7 separate regions of the Homo sapiens genome follow, and all the other regions are reported to be linked to region 1. Evidence: microRNA targets listed by miRTarBase, many of them from high-throughput screens and not tested one by one. Region 1 holds a microRNA gene; each other region holds the end of a gene's coding sequence.
The links. Region 1 holds the annotated microRNA hsa-miR-19b-3p (UGUGCAAAUCCAUGCAAAACUGA, at 2,116-2,138, shown strand). A microRNA usually pairs through its seed, bases 2 to 8, with sites in the 3' UTR of a target mRNA and lowers its output. Matches are read on the target gene's strand: a 7mer-m8 pairs with bases 2 to 8, a 7mer-A1 pairs with bases 2 to 7 and ends in A, and an 8mer does both.

Region 1 (3,096 bases):
GAATGGAGAACTCCGTTTCCCATGATGCTTTGTTTCTTTCTCTTTAATTTCGGCGGCGGCTGAGGCTGCACGAGGACTGGAGCGCGTGGTGTGAGCAGCTGGAGCACACCCTGGACGCGCGGGCTGCTCGCGGACTTCAACGGGAGCATTAGGTAAGGGTGTGAGAGACGCGGGAAGAGGCAAAAGGGAGCCACAAAGGCGTACAGGGAAGGACTTCTTTCTTTCTTTTCCTTATTATTATTATTATTATTTGCAATTTAAGGGGATTGGAGAGTGACTGCCCAGCGTGCGCGAGGGATGCCAGATGAACCGCTAATTAGCAAAAGGTAGTAACTAGAAGGGCGCCCTGTCTGATGGCTGTGGGGCTCAGTTTGGCCAGGTTGGGTTGGCAAATACTATGCATTTTGAGTCAAGTTTGGAGTATTTTTTTTTTAATGGAAAAGAAATCTTCACAGGTGTAGAAACCCAATTTAAGGGGAAAAATGTTATTTTTCTCATTTCTATACTAAATCCATTCTTCCCTAATAGAAAATTGATTCCAGATTGATGTATAAGTTTTATAAATCAGTTTAGTTTGTAAAGACTTCTAAAGACTCATTTAGTGGCATAAGATATCGTGACGAAAGTTCAACATTTAAAATTCCCTCACTCGTTTAACGTATTACAGATTCTGTCCCAAACGTTTTTGTTTTTCTTTTAAACAAAAGTTACCCCATCATGGAAGAGATAGGGGACCCTGTGAGCCTTTTTCACATAGAGGCTCACTTCCTTGCTGTATGTTCTTAGGTAAAATAAGCACTTGGAAATGGGAGAAGGTTTTCTTATGGAAGATAATGACATGAAGGGAAGAAGAGCTAATCTGCCTACTTTGGTTTAATGGAGAAAATGGGTCCATAAATGTTTAAACAGAAGTAGAGCCCTTTGAAATAGATCAAAATGTGACATCTCTCAGCCATCTGTGCATTATGTGAAGACTGTAAGGCTGTGTTTCTTAAACCAGCTCTAAAATTTCTCTCATTTTCTATTAATGGGGTGGGGGCTGGGAATATTCATTTAATCTAACAGTCACTTTCCGTATGGAGCCCAAAAGCTCTGAATGATCTGAAGACTCGAATACTCATCCTGGGTTTTACATGCTCCTTTCTCTAGGTCCTCCTCTTATAAAATCAGGGTGGATAGAATGTGCCTGCAAATTACTGAGATGCAGATATCAAATTTTCTTAGATGGAGAGGGGGAGTCCAAAATCTGCTTATACATAAGAATTGGACTTTTTGCAGTTGCCAGTGTTATTCGTGTTCAATTCTGTGTAAATAATTGAGATTATTAATATTTCTCAGGATTTGGTTGAAACCACAAAACCTAGCTTAGACTCTGTAAGCCAAAGGAAAGCCTGTTTCAGGAATATTAACTAGTAGTTTACTTGTTTAGTTTCTAATATGTGTGTGTTTGTTTTGTTGTTTTAACCAGGTGAGTCTGCATGGATCTGTGAGGACGGAAAAGAAGAGCTCCTGGAAGACTTAAAATTTTGCTACAGGAATAGGCCTTGGCCATGTAAAAGTGCTTACAGTGCAGGTAGCTTTTTGAGATCTACTGCAATGTAAGCACTTCTTACATTACCATGGTGATTTAGTCAATGGCTACTGAGAACTGTAGTTTGTGCATAATTAAGTAGTTGATGCTTTTGAGCTGCTTCTTATAATGTGTCTCTTGTGTTAAGGTGCATCTAGTGCAGTTAGTGAAGCAGCTTAGAATCTACTGCCCTAAATGCCCCTTCTGGCACAGGCTGCCTAATATACAGCATTTTAAAAGTATGCCTTGAGTAGTAATTTGAATAGGACACATTTCAGTGGTTTGTTTTTTGCCTTTTTATTGTTTGTTGGGAACAGATGGTGGGGACTGTGCAGTGTACAGTTGTGTACAGAGGATAAGATTGGGTCCTAGTAGTACCAAAGTGCTCATAGTGCAGGTAGTTTTGGCATGACTCTACTGTAGTATGGGCACTTCCAGTACTCTTGGATAACAAATCTCTTGTTGATGGAGAGAATATTCAAAGACATTGCTACTTACAATTAGTTTTGCAGGTTTGCATTTCAGCGTATATATGTATATGTGGCTGTGCAAATCCATGCAAAACTGATTGTGATAATGTGTGCTTCCTACGTCTGTGTGAACACACCTTCATGCGTATCTCCAGCACTCATGCCCATTCATCCCTGGGTGGGGATTTGTTGCATTACTTGTGTTCTATATAAAGTATTGCACTTGTCCCGGCCTGTGGAAGAAAGGAGGATTTTTATCGTCTTCTTATTTTAACTTTTAAAAGCCGTAAGTTCTGATATTTAGTCATTGTAAAATGATCTGTTTTGCTGTTGTCGGGTGGATCACGATGCAATTTTGATGAGTATCATAGGAGAAAAATTGCACGGTATCCATCTGTAAACCGCAGGACCTTTGTTGGCGACATTCCTGATCAGCGCTACAGTAAGCTAGATGGTAAAAAATCCTTTCTCTAGTTGCTGCTATTAAAAAATAATTTGAAATATATTTGGATTTCTAAAAACTATGATAGCTAATTTATAAAGTATGTGTTTTGGAACTTTGGTGAATGATCAGATTGTTACTGAATGTGAATGAACCTCAAAATAAATGAAATTTATAGATCTGAAAAAATGACTCTTTTTTTTTTAAAAAAAATAATTAGCAATGCTAGAGGAGTTTGTAAAATATCTCTTGGGAGGATCCTAAAGGAAAACTTGGACATAGCTGCTTTTCAAGTTTGCATCTACATAAAGCACCAAGATGCCTAATTTTAGGAATTTTATTACCCTGACAATATTTGGATGACATGTACTAATTTTGTTTTAGTACACGTGCTCATTCTTAGGAAGGGAATGAAGAGTTGTAAACCAATGGGACACATACCTTTAAGGAACTGGGCACATTTTGAGGTCTGACAGGAGAGAAGAATGAACTTGTCAATCAAACTCTGTTTTGGGGTTCTCGGAGAAGAGGATTTGGTGGCAGGGCTACTGAGAGGGATGGCTGCTGCCTTGCTTTGGAGTCTAGCAGATGGAAACCTGGATGTGGGCCTACTG
Region 2 (3,000 bases), not on the chromosome of region 1:
AGGTTCACGACATCCGCTGGAACTTTGAGAAGTTCCTGGTGGGGCCAGATGGTATACCCATCATGCGCTGGCACCACCGGACCACGGTCAGCAACGTCAAGATGGACATCCTGTCCTACATGAGGCGGCAGGCAGCCCTGGGGGTCAAGAGGAAGTAACTGAAGGCCGTCTCATCCCATGTCCACCATGTAGGGGAGGGACTTTGTTCAGGAAGAAATCCGTGTCTCCAACCACACTATCTACCCATCACAGACCCCTTTCCTATCACTCAAGGCCCCAGCCTGGCACAAATGGATGCATACAGTTCTGTGTACTGCCAGGCATGTGGGTGTGGGTGCATGTGGGTGTTTACACACATGCCTACAGGTATGCGTGATTGTGTGTGTGTGCATGGGTGTACAGCCACGTGTCTACCTATGTGTCTTTCTGGGAATGTGTACCATCTGTGTGCCTGCAGCTGTGTAGTGCTGGACAGTGACAACCCTTTCTCTCCAGTTCTCCACTCCAATGATAATAGTTCACTTACACCTAAACCCAAAGGAAAAACCAGCTCTAGGTCCAATTGTTCTGCTCTAACTGATACCTCAACCTTGGGGCCAGCATCTCCCACTGCCTCCAAATATTAGTAACTATGACTGACGTCCCCAGAAGTTTCTGGGTCTACCACACTCCCCAACCCCCCACTCCTACTTCCTGAAGGGCCCTCCCAAGGCTACATCCCCACCCCACAGTTCTCCCTGAGAGAGATCAACCTCCCTGAGATCAACCAAGGCAGATGTGACAGCAAGGGCCACGGACCCCATGGCAGGGGTGGCGTCTTCATGAGGGAGGGGCCCAAAGCCCTTGTGGGCGGACCTCCCCTGAGCCTGTCTGAGGGGCCAGCCCTTAGTGCATTCAGGCTAAGGCCCCTGGGCAGGGATGCCACCCCTGCTCCTTCGGAGGACGTGCCCTCACCCCTCACTGGTCCACTGGCTTGAGACTCACCCCGTCTGCCCAGTAAAAGCCTTTCTGCAGCAGCTGAGCCTACTGTGTGTGGTGCTTCTTCAATGGTGGCCGCCCCCGCCTGGGTGGGAAGTGAGGAGGAGAAGGTGGGGCAGGGTAAAGGGGGGAGGATGAGAAAAGAACAAATATGACAACAAAAACTTTTTACAGTGGGTGCAAAGGTAATTGCGGTTTTCGCCATATGGCAAAATCCAAGGCTACCTCCCCACCCCACAATTCTCCCTGAGATCAGCCAAGGCAGACTGCAAGGGCCATGTAGCCCTATTAGGGGTGGCATCTTCATGAGGGAGGCCCCCCTGCCACAAAAAAGGGGCAAAAATTGCAATTACTTTTTCAACAACCTGATAGTTAGCTGCAGTGGCGCACTCCTTCAGCTACTTGGGAGACTGATGTGGGAGGCTCCCTTGAGCCCGGGAGTTTGAGGCTATAGTGTGCCGTGACTGAGTCTGTGAAGAGCCACTGCACTCCAGCCTGGGCAACACAGTCAGACTGTCTCTTAAAAAAAAAAAAAAAAAAAGAGAGAAATTAGACAATGCTTTGAGTCCCTGCTTTTTGGCTCCTACCTTGGCCCACTCTGCTTCTCTCACTCAGCATTTGGAGTTTATAAAACCAGTTCTGATCTACTCTCATTCCCTCCCACAGTTCTCCAAGTCAGCTGAGGTTAAGATGAGGTGTTCTGTTTGACGGATGAGGAAACTGAGGCTCACAGAAGGGCCACGCCTTGCCCCAGGTCTCCTGATGAGTGAGGGGCAGGACTGGAATTTAAACCCAAGTCCCCTGAGTCCTGGCCTAGGCTCCTTCCACTGCCCCGGTTGCCCTACCCTCAGGGAGGCCCTGATACGTCACCATTACTCAAGAGTAATGGTGACCATCTCAGGGAAAGGAAGAAAAGGGGAACAGAAGGAGGGACCCAGGAAAGCAGGGGGTTGACAGGGGAACATTAGCGCATAAATGAACATGAGTCAGAATGTTGATCTTCTTCAACTTGGATTTATGTCCATGATTCGTGCAAATAGCTATCCAGGGATGGACAGCCACCCTAATCTGGGCTTCTGGCACCACAGGCCTCCAGCTATGGGGTCCAGGGTCTGAACCTCAGGGCCTGGCAGCTTCAGGCTGGCGCCCCTCGGCGGACGTGGCTGGCATGGCCTTCTCCCATCTGTGATGGCTTCAGCAAGGCTACTGTGAGTGGTGGTGGAGAGGGCCCCAGAGCCAGAATATCCATCATTCTCTTCTGTTCTGGAGACAAACCCACACTTCCCACAGCTCCTCACAGAGGGGTAGGGGTGTGCGTGGGGCAGGTCCTGCTACAGAGCTTGAAGCAAAAATTAAACACACACACAAATTGGTCATGGCAACTAGAGGGCCTGAAACCACTTCCGGGAGGTTTTGAAGGAAGGGGGTCTTGGCTGCCTCCCACTCTTAGGATTGCTGCTCCTGGAGGCTTCTGCAACGGATGGTGGGTCAAAGCCGGATGAGGCCTCTCTCCACTCAGCAGCAGGGAAGGAGTTTTTCCCAGTCACTCCCAGCAGAGTACAAATGAAAGCCTTCTGGGTGGAGCCTCCCCAGTCCTGTAAACAGCTCAGTTCAGGGACTGGTGTACAAGCTGGCCACCCATCTCAGCCTCTCATCCAGCTGAGGCTCTGGCCACACCGTGCAAGTGGCTTCTAGTTTCTTGGCAATCTGAGATCAGCTGGCTCTGCAAGATGAAGGTGGAGCCAAATGACACAATCTGGTCTCACTGAGGCCCCTCACGGTCATTTTTTGGAGACTCTAAATAAACAAAAATTTTGAGGACTTCATGATTATGTGGTAGAGCGAGTTTCAAAGTCTCTTATGGAATGCAGTGCAGGAACAGTGAAAATAACAGCTAGGGTTACTGGGTGCTACCAAGTGCCAGGGCTAAGTACCTTAAGTACGCTGGTCATGTAATCTTCACCCAGCCCTATGAAGAAGGCAGGTTATTATCCCATTGTAAAAGAGGGAACTGGGACACTA
Region 3 (3,078 bases), not on the chromosome of region 1:
CCTGGCTAACACGGTGAAACCCCGTCTCTACTAAAAATACAAAAAATTAGCCGGGTGTGGTCGCGGGCGCCTGTAGTCCCAGCTACTGGGGAGGCTGAGGCAGGAGAATGGCATGAACCCGGGAGGCGGAGCTTGCAGTGAGCCAAGATCATGCCACTGCACTCCAGCCTAGGTGACAGAGCAAGTCTCCGTCTCAAAAAAATAAATAAATAAAATAAATAAAAATTGCTTAGGTTGGTGCCTGGCATATAATAATAAAAATAATAGCTATATAAATAATATATATGTATACACAAACACACACACAACTATTATTATATAATATTCAAACAACTCACTGCCATCGGTAGCCCAGTATATGAGAACCGAAACATGACTTCTTTCATTGATAGATGGATGTTAGTGGATGTTTCCTTTTAGCAGGAAGGTACAGTTACTTGGATCCTTTTGACTCTAGTCTCCTTCCTCTAGCCCTCTATAGAATGGAGAGAAGCCAGTAGTAGGAAATCAGCCCAGTCTAATTTCTGATCACATTTAGACTGCAGCATTGGATGTTGGCTTGGGATTCACACTGAGAGACTAACCTGCTGTTTCCCCTGCCTTTTTGCATCTCTCCTCCTTCTTAGTGTGGGTTGTCTCTTCATGAAGAACCAGCGGAACTCAAAACTGCTGTTCAAGAAACCTCTTCAAGACTTTTGACTTAGAACCTGCTATATTATCAAGCTTACCTACTGTTATCTCTAAAATTTTTTTTGTGTTAATGTAAAGTTGAATTTCTAGGAAACGTGCCTTTGTTTTTTAATATGCACTCCAAATTAGAAGGCCGGCCCCGTCCACATTTTGCACAGTGCCTTTACAGATTTACGTATGGGCTGATGAAGAGGCCTTCTTAAGTTCCAGAGTGCTATAATCTAGATGTAATGTTGTCACTAATTAATTGCCATTACTCCCAGTTAGTTACCCTTGTCATTTGGCATTATTTTCAGAACCACATTTTAAACCTTTGGGTAATCAGATTTCCAACTTATGCCTTCCAGAAAAAAACACTACTGCCTAACACAAATCTGTGATAACAACAGGCTGTGCCTTATTTTGATAATTTTCTGATTCCCTAGAAGAGAACCCTCTACTTTTTGTAAGCACTACTGACTCTCGCTGTATTTAAGATGCTGGTGAAGAGCTTTTGCTCTTGCATTAGATTTGAAGATGTTTACATTGTTGTTATTGTTATGTATCACTTGCTAAAAATATTGTTTTAATCAGAGATAACCTCTTTAAAAAAATTTTTAAAGAACTATGGCTATGACCAAAGCTTCTATTTTGCCAAAAAGTTAAATACCGATAAAATGGCCTTAAGTGTATTCCTGACAGTTAAATTCAGAAACGTGCCAAATGGAACTCAAGGTGCCCCTTCAGAATTAAAATCATTACCTTGTGTGTGAACCTTCTACATCTTCATAGGCCTTTCTTCCTTTTGAAAGGCTGTAGACAGTGTGGCTCCCCTTCTGATTCAGTATTTTGCATGGGGGTTAGAGAAGGTTTGAGGTAGACTCTGACCGTCTCATAAAAGAGTTCTACCCAGCAGTTGGCAGATTATCAGCTGTGGACTCCAGCATGTTTCTGATAATTATGCAAGCAACAATTCTGTAGCCTCAAGTAAGACCACCTGTGAACTTGATCATTATCTGGCCCAAATATGAAGATAAACTATAACTTTGGAGTTTGTTTCCTATTTGTATTCACATTCTGCTTCCTAAATCAGTTTTCTAAATTATGCCTGCAATTAGGCATTGGTCAGGGGTGAATGGCTCTTTTCACAGAGAGTAGCCAACCAGAGACCTTTGCTTTGATATCATCAACTGCAGAGAATGCTGTTGATGGGAATGCTGGAAGCAGAAACTTTGTCATCGGAAAAACTTTTCTTGTATGCATGAGACTCAACATCAGGATCCACAGCTTAAAGATGGGAATTCAGGTATGAAAGAAAACAGGCAAGGAGGCACTGAGGGAGAAAGACACAGACTTTATCGCTCTGTGGCTCATTGTTACTGGAATATTCTAAAACTCTTGTTCACATGCTATTATGACTTATAAAGCAGCAACAGCTGAGGCGCACCAGGACACAGCTTCCATTTCTTTAACGTCTGTTCCCTTAACATCGCTGAAATGATTTACTGTTGAAGAGATGCCTTGCGGTGTGGCCAGCTGTGAGGAGAAAGCAGCTGGCAGTGTTAGGACATTAGTCCACCTTCAGCGCAGGGTCTCTGGCCGGGTCTGACTCAGAAACCTTGGTACTCGCCCCTTGGCCACAGTGCCCAGACCCATGTAACCCACTGGCTCCTGCATTAACCCAGAAATACCTCGCTTCTATCTGTGCACTTAGCTGGGAACTTACCCACTGTAATCACCTAAATAAAGTGTTTATAAACATGATTGTGGCACCTGTGCTCCTTGTAGAGGAATAGCTGCACCTGGTCCGAGTCCTAAAAATGCCATTCCTTGCTGCTCCCCATACCTGTCCCTTAGAAGCCCCGAAACTGTCTCCCCCTTTTCTCACCAGCCCCTCTCTAGGTACTCTACCCTTTTGGTACCCAGCATTTCCGCATACCCCAGTGAACAGAAGAAAACCGCTCCCCTTGTGAAAAGTGCTTTTTAGTATAGGCGATGAGGAGGAAACTGGCTTTTACACAATTACCAAAATTCAGGATGTGGCTTTGGAGTTCCCTAAATAGATGGTCTTTCTAAAGTGATGTGCAGAGCCGACCCCGTCTGTGGTAGACTAGATGGCTGCTGGCATGGACCCTGGGATAGATGAGTGGATAGGTGAGGGACATCCCCAGACACATGGCTCTGTTCCTGTAGATCCTTTTTTCCTCATGAATGTATTTCCATTCTTATCGTAGAACCCCTAGGAAACAATATAATACGGGTGGAAGAGGACTTTTGCTTATGTTTACAATAGGAAAATCCAAGTCCCTTTCCCGAATTACAGGTCCCACGATGATCTGGTCCTTTCTAGTTTTCTGACTTCATGTCACACGACTCTCCAGCTCTCTCTTCTCCAAGCAAGGTACTCCA
Region 4 (3,096 bases), not on the chromosome of region 1:
ATGATGGCACCCGCCTGTAGTATTCCCAGCTACTTGGGAGGCTGAGGTGGGAGAACTGCTTGAGCCTGGGAGGTAGAGGCTGCAGTGAGCCATGATTGTGTCACTGCACTGTAACCTGGGTGACAGAGAAACTCATCTCAGAAAAAGAAGAAAACCTTCAGGCTGAGTGCAGTGATTCACACCTGTACTCCCAGCATTTTGGGGGGCCAAGGTGGGAAGATCACTTGAGCCTGGGAGTTCAAGACCAGCCTGGGCAACATAGGGAGATCCCGACTCTACAAAAAGTATAAAAATTACCCAGGTGTGGTGGTGCACACCTGTAGTCCCAGTTACTCGGGAGGCTGAGGTGGATCACTTGAGCCTGGGAGATCGAGGCTGCAGTGAGTGGTGATTGTGCTACTGTGCCACTACACTCCAGCCTGAGTGACACAGGCCCTGTCTTGAAAACAAAACCCCACTTTTTTTTGCCCCTTTCTATGTGTTTGCTGAATCTTTTATCTTGAGCATTTTAGAGTAAAAATGATACTCAAGTCTGAAATAATAAAAATAAATTCACTATAAAGAATGACCAACCTTTTCCCATCTCCTTTGAAGAGATGAGTTTTGAAATACAATATGCTCAGAACTAAGTAAATACTATCCATGAAGGCAGCTGAATGCCTCATTGGGCTACATGAGTCTCTTAAAGGGGGACAGATTCCTCAATGCCTAGAGATGGGCAGGATGGAGAAGACAAACTACAGTTTATCTACTACAATTTATAATTTTGTCGTACAGTTAAAATGGGGGGAGGAGAAACTGAAAGCATCTTAGATTTTTAAAGACAAGTTATTATATAAAAATATTTGTCTTCTTTGCAACAAAATTAAAAAGGTAAAAATATAGGTAATAATATCTTTAATCCCCTACATCAAGAAGTTGACAGTCTATCTAAATATGCTAGAAACATAAAAATCATATTCAGAGGTAACAAAGTAGAAATGCAGGCACTCATTTTTAAGTATACAATTTGTTTTTATTTACAATACCCTATAAAAATGTAAATTTAGAAACTTTTATTTTCATTAATTAGAACCAATCCAAACAAAAAAGATAAAGCACAGTAAGGAAGAGATAATAATCAAGTATTCACTTGATTGGTTGTGAAGGGAAGGTAGGAAAGGCATGTAGTGGAAATGGTCAGTAGACAACGGTAGAGGGAAGCTAGGTAACATCACTGGGGAACAGCTGGTGGAGCCTGGGGTTACAGCATGGGAAGAAATGGAGATGGAGAACAGGACAGCTGGTTTTAACAGAGGATCTTACTGTTGTACAATACATGTATGTGCAAAATGTTTATTCTCTTTAAATACCATAACCTGTCCCTCCCACCCCCCAACTACATTCGAAAAAGTAAGAACAGCAGAAAGATCACGAAGGCCATGTAAAATTAATTCAGATTTAATTTTCTTCAGGGCTGTAATCACTAGGGATCAAAACTCCTTAGTCTGGTTGATTGCTGAATGGGAGAGGAGTAAGTGAGAAAGATCATGGCAGGCTGGCCCTGCAATTATTCAAACCCAGGCCCCTGGCTGCCTGGGAACGGGACTTGGGTGAGATGAAGTAGTAAAGACAGCAGTTCTGCCCATGGTGTGGAGACTAAAAAGCAAAGCAGGCCAAACTTAGCTTCCATGGTTACATTTGGAAGTTTCTATTCATGACACCAAATAAAAGTGGGGAAGAAGGAAGCATGGCTTACTGAAGTAGTCTCAGGAAGACAGGGCAAGTGTGCAAAAAGCCACACTGCCAAAGCAGGCTACTAGTGAGGATCATCCTGGGTGACTTCGAATGCACTTGAGGGGAAAGGCTCAAGTACCCTGTAGTTGTAGCAGGAAAAAGACATAACCATGTGTTGTTTCGATTAAGGTGGACAGAAACTAAGGAAATAAAGGTGGGAAGAAGAAAAAGGACTTCTCAGCCTAGACCTGGGCATAAGCCAATTAAGAGTTCTGATTTTATTAAACGTGCTGCATACTCTTTATTTATGTTAAAACAAGTAGAACCCACCAAATTAATTACAAGATAGAACAGAAACAGATTAAAATACATCAGCTGGTTTGTGTTTAGAAGAGGTAATGAGACAACTAAATATTTTTCAATCTAAAATTCATTCTTTAAGGACCCTCTGAAGACCACATAAATACATGTATGGGGTGTGTGTGTGTGTATCTATGTGTGTGTGTATATCTTGATTTCTACTTAATTGGCTCTTCTATAGTCATATTAATATGGGGCAATGAAAAAACAACTTCAATAGGATGAGGGAAGGAATCCTTTGGCAGGCTACAATCTACTCTGAGGTGGAGTAGTGGAGGGATAAAGGGAGAGATTACACTTGTGTCTCTAGGGCAAAGAAAATGCAAAACAGAACTGAGTAAAAGTAGGACATGCAGAACTGTAACACAGAAGGTAAAGAAACCAGCAGAAGTATCACCCAGCCAAATTTCATAGAGCAGTGGGGAAATATCTGACATTTAGAGAGACAACCCCTGTAAACAGGAATCGATCCCACAAGACTTTGCTTTGGGGAAAAAGCTACCTTCCTTCCCTCATTAAAAACACTCCATTGGTGATGGCAGCAGTGCAGGTGGCAGCCAAAAGGAGGTACAGGACACATTTGGAGATCTTTTATCGTATCCCCTGAACTAGCCTAGGAGTACAAAGGAGAGAAAGGAAAATTGTATAAATGAGTTAAAACAGAAGGCAATCTTTCATATTACAGTTACATCTTTGTAAGACTTCTCATAACAAAATACCCGAGATTATTTCTCTACCCTTAGCATTTGGTCATCTTTTATGAAGGCCCTGTTGTACCCAGTTCAGTGTTTTATATCTAACAGATACACAAATAGTTAATAAAAAGTCAATCTCTTCCACCAAATTCAGTTTTATTCCCCCCTCCACCCCAATCATAACTTCTTTTTATTTATTTTTTTTGAGACAGGGTCTTGCTCTGTCACCCAGGCTGGAGTGCAGTGGCGTGATCTCAGCTCACTGCAATCTCTGTCTCCCGGGTTTAAATGATTTTCATACCTCAGCCTACCGAATAGCTGGGAT
Region 5 (3,096 bases), not on the chromosome of region 1:
AACGCACCCGGAGAAGAGCTACTTCACGCGACGACAACCGCCGTTTCCGACCTCACAGGTCCAGGCGTTCCCGACGCTCTCGCTCCGACAACGCCCTCCACCTGGCCAGCGAACGCGAGGCCATCTCCCGGTTAAAAGATAGGCCCCCTCTGAGAGCCAGGGAGGACTATGACCAATTTATGCGCCAGCGGAGCTTCCAGGAGAGCATGGGGCATGGGTCCCGGAGGGACCTGTACGGCCAGTGCCCTAGGACTGTGTCGGACCTGGCTTTGCAGAATGCCTTTGGGGACCGCTGGGGACCCTACTTCGCCGAGTATGATTGGTGTTCCACCTGCTCCTCCTCTTCAGAGTCTGACAACGAGGGCTATTTCCTAGGAGAACCCATCCCCCAGCCAGCGCGCCTGCGATACGTCACAAGCGATGAGCTGCTGCACAAATACAGCTCCTACGGCCTCCCCAAATCTTCCACATTAGGTGGCAGAGGACAGTTGCACAGCAGGAAAAGACAGAAGAGCAAAAACTGTATCATTTCTTAATATGATTGGGATCAGGGAATGGGAGAAGATGGGAGCTAAGAATGTAAAGTCAGAAACTTGCACTGTTTTAAATGTTAAAGCGCTTTTGGGGGTGGCTTATGGGGGAGAAAAGGGAAAATGCTGTCAGTAGATGGAGGCAAGGTTACAGGTTGACTCAATAGGTAGTCACAGTTCTTGGCATGTTGAATATTATTTGCACATTTCACTTTGGAAACACAGTAGACTCTATCGAGGCCAGGCTTGGTCACTTCCTTCCCATCAGTTCTGTGTTGAGTTGCCATCTCTCAAGATGGTAAATTGTTTCCTGCTCGCTTTTATCCTCTCTGGTTCTCTTACTTTTAGGACCCTTTTTTCAGTAAGTAATTTGTTTATTAGCCAGGACCCAAGACTAAGTTATTTACATGTCCATTGTAAATGCAATGTAAATGAGAGTTCTGATAAAATATTTTTGTATTTTGTAATATCAAAGGAATTTCTATATCGTAGGACTCAGTGGGGACTTGCATGCACATCCACCATTGTCTCTGAGTAGTATTGAAATGTGGCCCGGTACCACCTTTTTTTTTTTTTTTTTTTTTTCTATACAAATTTGTTACATGTCAGTGAGACCTTTTTCAAAGGAACATATTCAATTTGGCTTTTTGTGGCTGAAAAAACATAACTGTTAGACCCAAAGCATTTTATGCTCCGTTCCATCTTAAGGAGCCATCCTTAAGTCTGCTCCCACCCTCAGTAGAATTTATTTTCTACAAAGTGGTAGTAATTTTTTTTTAAATTGCAAATGTAATTTTTGCCAATTAGAGAAACCAACCGGTGTCAGTAAAATTCTGTGAGAAATGCCATCCCTGCTGGGAATGTTGAAGTTACTTAATGTTGATCTATCCCTTGGGGAAAGTAAAAGTGACTGTGAGTGGTGCCATTGTGTGATGTCAGCATGACGTTGTTTTGAATGTGGCATTATGTTCTGGTGCTCATGTTTCCTGGATTGTATTATCTGCTTTCCTTTACCAAGGCAGACAGAACTGCTGCCTTAGCCTGACAACCGGTTGTCCTCAAAGCAAATGAACTTAAGCATTTGGGATTGAGGGACAGAAGGATTCTGAGGGGGCTCTGCGAGGGACGGTGTGTGACATGTCATGCCTGGAGAAGGAACAAGGCTATTTGAAAACAGAAGGCAGGTCAAGGGTAGAAGTTAAAGGAGAATCTGAAGGCAGGTCAGGGAAAAGAAGAACTGGAAATGAAACAGAGGACAGGTGACAACCACCTCGAAGAGCTCCCAGAGATTGTAGAAAGAGTCCAGTGTAACCAGCTTAGTAACCAGAGTATCTGGATTACCCAGGAAGGTTGAGCTGCTGAGATTTCAGTGGTGCAATGTCTTTAAAAAAACAGGCTTTGTTGGGAGGGTATTTCCATTTTGAACTTTGAGGACTGTTGGTCAGAAAATGGGCTCAAAAGTGAGTTTGCTTAATGAAGACATTTAACGGTTGTGCTGTTTATAGTAAAATAAAACTCCCTACCTTGCTTCAGTTAAAAATGAAGCACTTGGTTTCTTCCATCCTCCTCCTCCCCTTAATGGATTGTGGCAGTTGAAATAATCCATCGGATGACCCACCTGTAGTGAGATGTACTGTCGATGTAGTGCCCGGTGTATCTCAGTGGCCATCTGCCATGGTGAGGTGAGCGTGATCTCTTTTCAGTATAGTAGTTAACATTTTCTAGTATTTTTTATGGAGAGAATGTCAAAAGTGGCATTTCAGACCCCGTCCCAGATGGGTCTGAGGAAAGGAAGGCTGTAAAGGACATGGTAATGGCACTCCATTCGGGATGTATTAAAATAATTTGCTTTTCAGGTATTAATATGACATTTGTCATTGTCACTGATTTTTTTAAAAAAGCAATGCACATGTTGGTTGTGGCTGTTTTCCGCATGCTATCTTCATATCTAAATGCTTCATTAATTATCCGAGCCTCCGGAGAATTAACTCTATTACGTTTGTATAGTAAGTTTGTAAACTGCTTGGCAAACTGATTAAGAAATAATTTGCAATACCGTGCTACTAAAGTGGCAGGTTTCTGGTAGAAATTGTGCGAGTCCAATTTGGAGTTTTAAGTTCCTTGATTGATGAAACTAAAAAGGCAATTTTGGAAAAAGAGAGGGGGAAAAGTAGATCACTTATCTTAGCAAACGGTTGAAAATATGTCTGTCCTCTGTGGCCCCAAATCCAGTGAAAGAAATTCTCCCAGTAAAAGTTGCTTCCTAACTCTGTTTTTCTCAGAATACCTCTTACCTTTCTCAAAGAAAGCTTCAACCACCATCATCAGAAAGAAGGTGGCCTAAAAACTGACACATGGCCAGTGCCCGGAGGGGTCTGGAGGCATAAGTCTAGATGCCCAGAGAGCATCCAGGCACTGAACTGCTCAGAGCTTGAGATGAAATGACATACAAGCTTCAGGGTAAAACTGTCTACTAGCAAGATTACCTCCCTCAATTCTACCATTGCAGATTTCTTCTGACCCCAAATGCAACCTTACAGAGAATGCTGAATGAGGAAGGCCAATT
Region 6 (3,096 bases), not on the chromosome of region 1:
CAATCCCCGTCCACCCTTACCCGCCGGGAGGATCCAGAGCTAGTCCTAAGGGAGCTGTGGGCCCCAATGGCGGTTCAGACGCGCGCCGCCCTTTTGTCAGCTCGCCTGGGGCCCACCCCCGCAACCCCCGCTCACCGCCCGCGGGCCGGTCCAGCTTGAGGATGTCCCGCAGGTGCTGCGTGGCGTCCTCGATGTCGATGCTCGCGCAGGAGGCCATGGGCCCTGCGGCGGGCGCCCCGCCCGCACCGCGTTCGTTCCGCCGCCGCCGCGCACCACGCACCCTCGCTCACCCGCCACGGGGCGAGACAGCGGGACGCCGGTCACTACACAGTCCACCCGCAGTTCGCAAACCGCCACCCGCGCAGCGTCGCTGAGCCCCGCCAACCCCACCAACCGCCTCCACTTCCGGCACCCACGAGCCGAGGCTCCCGGAACCTGCCAGGGCCGGAGAAGAAAGGTTCCGGGCTGGGGGCGGAAGCCTAAACCCCTCCCGCAGCCAGTCCCCCTCGGCGGCCCCGCCCCTGTGTCCGCGAGGTCAGGAAAGTCCCACGGGGCTGAAGTAAGCGTCCACGCACTGGGCCACCTAAAGCCCTACTCGACTCAGAAGGCGCCAGGTCCCTGCCCACTCCCAGAGCATGGACTCCGATGGTCCTGGGACGGGGTCAACTTAGCCGCCCATGCTAAGGTCCCTCAGACCCCCAGAATATGCTGAATTGGCAGGTGCCTCAGGTTCCCTTTGGGAATGGGTCGGAATAACTCAAGGCCTGAGGCTACCCTCGAGGTCATAAAACTCAGGAATTGCAAGAGCAGGGGAGATGATCCCACTACAATGACCAGTCATTGTTCCCTACTGTCCCCCAGCATCCCCTTGTCCCACCTGGCACCCTCAGGTTGGAAGAAAGAAACCACAGTTTACAAATTCTTCTTTATTGCAGACAGTTCAGGCACAGGTACATGGAAGAAGCCGTATTGCAGATTTTACACAAGGTGGTTTGAGGCAGCAGGCACCTACCTCTTCCCCACCCCCACTTCCCCAAATACACATCAGCCTAGAGATCATTCCCACTGAAATCTCCTGAGCATGCTGTCCTCTCAAACAGCACACCATCCAGCCCTGTGCCCAATGTCACCAGGCAATCTGTGGGATCTGAGGAGGTCCTTAGCCTCCACCCGTAGTGGGACAGGGGAAGGGTATCCTTTTACATGTCAGATTTAGCTGTGGTGTCCTTACCAATCCTAAAACCCTTAACAGGGCACTGACCCAAATCTTGGGTTTGGTTCTAGCCTATGGTTGCTACATTGCCACTAGGTTTATACCATCCAGAAGTCTGTGGGACAAGGGGCTAGATTTGTACTGGGCAAGGCCTTTGTCCCCAAAATGGAGAAGCAGAAACTGCCCTAATAGCTAAGACTCCCCGGAATTGGAAGATAGCATGAAGTCTGTATGCTGAGGAAGGAAGTGGAGAGAGGCCTGGCAATGTCCTGCAGCAGTCTGAGGGGTGAGGACTCCTAAAGCATGAGTCCCTCACAGACTGCCTCCTTCCACAGCTCCTGACCTATACTCCAACACAACTGGGCCTGGCTCTGTGGGCAGTGGAGGCTGGCTCTTCGGGTTACCTGCCTTTGGGTAAAGATATCCAAAGCAGATGGGACAGGAGCTGAGCTGCCCTCTGCCTGGCTTGGTGTATGTGGGGCATCCTGGATATGATCCTGATCCTTCTGGGGATAGAGCAGGCCCCTCCCTTGATACTGCTGACAACTCAGCCCGGAGGGCCTGAACGTGATGAGCCATTTTGCCAAGGCCTCTCCAGCTTCAACAGGATTCAGGATCATCTCTCCTGCTACTAGGGCCCTGAACCTACCCAGAGCAGAAGTCACAGGAGGTATCAGAACTGACTGCACAGGCTTCAGTGAGAGAAGCTTCAGGCCAGACCTGAGCTCTTCCTGCCTGCTTTCCAAAGACCAGTCGCCCTGTGGAGTGGGAGAGAACTGCCCTACACGGCTTCTGAGAGGCTAGCTGGGAGTGCTGCTTCAGCAGTTTCTCCCTGCAACAGGTATTCAGAGTTGGGGCAGAAGTGGGAGGGTGAAACATGAGAGAGACAACGGGTCTGGGTAGCTTCTGATGCCCAGCCAACTAGTAAACTAATTAAAACAATTTAAACTGTTAAGAAAATTTTTGTGGTTTTATTGTATCATGAGGCATTGAAACATCTGAACAAATCAATGTCTGGGCGGTGAGGCAGCTGCTTTCTCCTTCACTTCTTTGGGTTACTAGAGCAACTTGTCAGTAGATTAAAAAAAAAAAAAAAAAAAAAAGGACAACCTTTTGCATTACTTAAGTCTTTCCAAGGCATGCGCTGGTACAACACAAACTTCTCCCGTCAGATGCAACTAGTCTAGCATCCAAACATCATGCACAACACCTCAGTGGCAGCAGCGCACTGCGCCCACTCCCACCGCGGCCCTGCTCATTTGTGCATGATATTTGGAGCATCTGGAGGAGTGGGAATAGTATTGGGAAGAGGAGGGAGGAGGAAACAGCGTGAGTGCCTAGCTGAGAGGAGGTCAGCCAAAGTTGTGCAGGGCGAGCCTGAACATGTCATTGGTGCAAACCCAAGCATCGTTGATGTTCTTTAATAGGAACATCTGGTGGAACCCCATGATGGGGTCTTCATCCGCCTATGAGGAGAGAAAAGAGGATTCAGTAAGGGGATCAAGAAACAGGAAGGGAATTCAGTGGTAGGAGAAGAGGGCAAAAAAATGTTGACTTTAGGATCAGGCCCTACTGTCCTGAACTCAAATCCCAGTGTAGCCAAGGGGTACTTGTGAATGTGAATTGATGTAATGTATGAAACAATGCCCTGGGCACATGTAGGCCAACAATCAGCCACGCCTATGTGTGCTATGTGTGCTTAAACTGCACAATAATTCACCCTTAGCTACAGCAAAAGAGCAGAGGATGTACCTGCCTCCAAGCACATATCTCCAGACACAAGTGATCACAATTTTGAAACGAATCCCATAGTATTTACCAAGTAACTTATAGAGTATCAAAAAAACTGCAAACAATCTTGAAAACATAGGTTCACTATCCAA
Region 7 (3,096 bases), not on the chromosome of region 1:
ACAGACTCATTAAACATTGGAGTGTTCATACTGGAGCAAGGCCTTATGAGTGCATCGCATGTGGGAAGTTCTTTAGCCAAAGCTCTGACCTTATTGCACATCAAAGAGTTCATAATGGTGAAAAGCCTTATGTGTGCAGTGAATGTGGAAAAGCCTTTAGCCACAAACATGTACTTGTTCAGCATCATAGAATTCACACTGGAGAAAGGCCATATAAGTGCAGTGAATGTGGGAAGGCCTTCAGGCAGAGGGCTTCCCTCATCCGCCACTGGAAAATTCACACTGGAGAAAGGCCTTAGGATGGGAGATAATTCCGTTTCCTTGTTCAACATAATAACTGACATCAGAGAGAAGCTCCAAGCATAGCCTTTATGTGTAGCCGACAGCCAGAAGTAGAACTTTATACACTCAAACACTCACCCTGGGGAGGTTCTTCCGAGTGCCAGCTATATGGGAAGCCTTCTGGAGCTATGCTGAATTTTCTAGACTCTTGCTGGAATTTCGTCAAGGCAGTGCCTGTTAGAAGCCATCTGTCTTTGTGCTGGAAGAGTCCTGCCTTGTGCCAAAGTAACCCCAATGTGTTTCAAAAGACAGACCTCTGTACTATTCCCTTCCCTGGAGGGAATCATCAGTAGCCTGAGGCCATCAAGGATTCTCACTTTTTTTCTGCCCCACTACTGGTTTAAGCATGAGCATGACCCAGTTTTAGCCAGAAAAATGGGAGCTTTGTTCTGCTGACCACTGGCAGAGGTTTCCCTTCATGGATATAGTTGATCTCACATGGCACTTGGGACGAATTTTTCTAGCCTTCAAGACACCTGACCTGAAATTGGCTGCCTCATATTCTGGTTTTGCAACAAATGCCTTAATTTTTAGACTATCTGAAATCTTGAGGATTCTGTTCGCTTTGTGGGTTGGGTTGAGAACAGAATTGAGCTAAGCCAGTATGAAGGGAAGAACAGCTTTTGTGAGAGCTCCAACTATCTGTATCTCTGAAGTGATAGTAGGATGGCAAAGACTAGCTCTTATGCTAGTGTCAAGCTAACTTACTTGACTGCTTCAGCTCTCCTAGGAAAGAATGCCAGTCTTTGTAGGCCTAATCTTTTGGTCTATATGTTAAGATTTTTTGTGTAATTGAGGTCACCCTAAGCAGTGGGCATTTGTTGTGATAATCTCTAATGTGTCTGGGAGCAACATGAATTACGTCCCTTGTTCCCAGAAGATACTTCATATTCCCAAGGCTTCTTGAGGAGAATTTGAACTCAGTGGACATGTCAAGATCTCTGAAGTCTATTTTTCAGTAGGCAGTTGATATTGGCTGTCCTCCAGAAGGCCCAGGTAGGAATCATAGTTGGTGCAGAAACCCAGATTAATAAAGGAATGAGAAAACTGCAGCAAACTATAGGGAATATGACCCTTCTAAAGGTACATCCACATGTGTTTCCATTACTCTGGCTCCATTATGAGGGTTTACAGAAATATTTCCATACCTGTGTCTCTTATGGCTAAGGTTACTGTCCAGAAGTCAGTCTAAACATTTTTGCAATAAACTGCACATATTTATAGTGTACCATTTGATAAGTTTTGATACATGTTGGCACTTCTCAAACCAAAAGTTTCCTGATTCCTTTTATATTTTCTCCCTTTCCTTCACCCATCCCCAGGCAACTATTGATCCGTTGTCACTGTAGATTTGTTTGTATTTCCTAGAATTCTACAGAGATAGAGTAATTTAATATGTATTCTAATGTTTTTGGCTTCTTAAACTCTGAAATTAAGGCTCATGGTGGTGTTCTGTGTTTCATAGTTCATTTCTTTTCATTTGTACTTTGCTAAGAGTGTTCCATTGTAGAGAAATAGTTTCAAAGCAAGTGATCCAGGAGAGAACTCACACAAGAACAAAGCCACAGTATCTGTCATTACCTTAAACTGAAAGTGATGAGCCGTCATTTCTGCTATATTTCATAAGTAACCCTAGCTAATCCTGGTTAAAAGTGGAAGAGAACTACACAAAGGTGAAAATAGGGATTTGTGGGGCGTTTTCTTGGACTCTGGTGACCATAATCCTATATGGTTTTTTTCTTTTTCTGTTTTAGTTGTTTAATATGAATTACATTGACTGATTTTTTTAAATGTTAAGCCAACCTTGCATTTCTGTAATAATTCCCATTTGGTCATGATGTATTAGTCATTTAGTATATTGTTGAATTTGATTTGCTATTTTGTTTTGTTTTGTTTTGTTTTTTTGTAACAAGTTTTGCACCAATGTTCACGAGTGATATTTGTCCCTAACTTTCTTTCTTGCTTGCTTGCTTTTTTTTCTTTGTAATTTTATATCTTGCCCAGGTTTGGCTTTGGTATCAGCATAATGCCAGCTTTATAGAGTAAGTTGGGAAGTATTCCTGCTCTTCAGCTCTCTGGAAGAGTTTGTGAATAATTGGTATTATTTCTTCCTTAAATGTTTGGTAGAATTCACCAAGGAAGCTGTCTGGGCCTGGAGTTTGTTTTGTAGGAAAGTTTCTAACTATAAGTTTGATTTCTGTGGTAGATAGAGGGCTGTACAAGTTATATGTACATCTGTCTGTGTGTGTGTTGTCTGTCTGTCACTCTGGCCCTGAAGTGTGTTTTGTAGGACAGCATCTAACTACAAGTTTGATTTCCATGGTAGATGGAGGGCTATACTAGTTATATATACATCTGTCTGTCCGTCCATCTGTTTGTCACTCCATCCATCCATCTATCTCTAGAGTGAGCTTTGATGGTTTGTGTCTTTCAAGGAGTTTTTCTGTTTTATTTAAGTACTCAAATTTTTCAAAATATTATTTTCATACTTGTAGAATTTGTAGTGGTGCAACCTCTTCTATTCCTGATACTGGTAATGTCTATATTTTTCTTTTAACCTTGATTGGTTTGGGTAGAGATTTATCAATTTTACAATTTTATTGATCTTAAAGTACTTGGTATTATTGAATTTTCTGTTTTCTGATATTTTGGGATTTTTCTTTTCCATTTTGAGTTTTACTAATGCCTTCCGCTTTTATTGGATTTCATTTCTTTTGCTACTTTTTAACATGGAAGCTGAGGTCCTTCATTTCA

Region 2: the mRNA of TNIP1 is a reported target of hsa-miR-19b-3p. Seed matches in the 3' UTR shown: 7mer-m8 at 2,009-2,015.
Region 3: the mRNA of VAMP3 is a reported target of hsa-miR-19b-3p. Seed matches in the 3' UTR shown: 8mer at 840-847.
Region 4: the mRNA of PATL1 is a reported target of hsa-miR-19b-3p. Seed matches in the 3' UTR shown: 8mer at 1,767-1,774 and 8mer at 1,324-1,331.
Region 5: the mRNA of PRICKLE2 is a reported target of hsa-miR-19b-3p. Seed matches in the 3' UTR shown: 8mer at 729-736.
Region 6: the mRNA of NUTF2 is a reported target of hsa-miR-19b-3p. The part of its 3' UTR that is shown has no 7-base or 8-base seed match.
Region 7: miRTarBase lists ZNF772 as a target of hsa-miR-19b-3p. Seed matches in the 3' UTR shown: 7mer-m8 at 2,257-2,263.

What each region holds. Positions count from the first base shown.
Region 1 is chrX:134,168,725-134,171,820 of GRCh38, reverse strand. It overlaps MIR19B2 (microRNA 19b-2), which reads left to right and starts at 2,055; the gene lies at 2,055-2,150. It overlaps MIR106AHG (miR-106a-363 cluster host gene), which reads left to right. Exons shown (of 2, transcript XR_007068340.1): 1 at 1-152; 2 at 1,469-2,671. It overlaps MIR363 (microRNA 363), which reads left to right and starts at 2,369; the gene lies at 2,369-2,443. MIR92A2 (microRNA 92a-2) reads left to right here and starts at 2,209; the gene lies at 2,209-2,283. It also overlaps MIR20B, MIR18B and MIR106A.
Region 2 is chr5:151,027,973-151,030,972 of GRCh38, forward strand. It overlaps TNIP1 (TNFAIP3 interacting protein 1), which reads right to left. Exons shown (of 18, transcript NM_006058.5): 18 at 1,973-2,775. The coding sequence ends at 2,741. It overlaps GPX3 (glutathione peroxidase 3), which reads left to right. Exons shown (of 5, transcript NM_002084.5): 5 at 1-1,016. The coding sequence ends at 158. Among named protein-coding and RNA genes, the nearest start is that of GPX3, 8.9 kb to the left of the region's middle.
Region 3 is chr1:7,779,000-7,782,077 of GRCh38, forward strand. It overlaps VAMP3 (vesicle associated membrane protein 3), which reads left to right. Exons shown (of 5, transcript NM_004781.4): 5 at 627-2,433. The coding sequence ends at 646. Among named protein-coding and RNA genes, the nearest start is that of PER3, 3.8 kb to the right of the region's middle.
Region 4 is chr11:59,635,723-59,638,818 of GRCh38, forward strand. PATL1 (PAT1 homolog 1, processing body mRNA decay factor) reads right to left here. Exons shown (of 19, transcript NM_152716.3): 19 at 994-2,689. The coding sequence ends at 2,668. Among named protein-coding and RNA genes, the nearest start is that of OSBP, 21 kb to the left of the region's middle.
Region 5 is chr3:64,096,491-64,099,586 of GRCh38, reverse strand. PRICKLE2 (prickle planar cell polarity protein 2) reads left to right here. Exons shown (of 8, transcript NM_198859.4): 8 at 1-3,096. The coding sequence ends at 536. It overlaps PRICKLE2-AS1 (PRICKLE2 antisense RNA 1), which reads right to left. Exons shown (of 3, transcript NR_045697.1): 3 at 1-2,664. Among named protein-coding and RNA genes, the nearest start is that of PRICKLE2-AS2, 5.4 kb to the left of the region's middle.
Region 6 is chr16:67,870,383-67,873,478 of GRCh38, reverse strand. It overlaps NUTF2 (nuclear transport factor 2), which reads right to left. Exons shown (of 5, transcript NM_005796.3): 5 at 912-2,679. The coding sequence ends at 2,566. It overlaps EDC4 (enhancer of mRNA decapping 4), which reads right to left and starts at 427. Exons shown (of 29, transcript NM_014329.5): 1 at 136-427. The coding sequence starts at 217. RefSeq lists an enhancer at 1-211 and a silencer at 105-314.
Region 7 is chr19:57,470,477-57,473,572 of GRCh38, reverse strand. ZNF772 (zinc finger protein 772) reads left to right here. Exons shown (of 4, transcript NM_001144068.2): 4 at 1-3,096. The coding sequence ends at 299. Among named protein-coding and RNA genes, the nearest start is that of ZNF772, 5.5 kb to the left of the region's middle.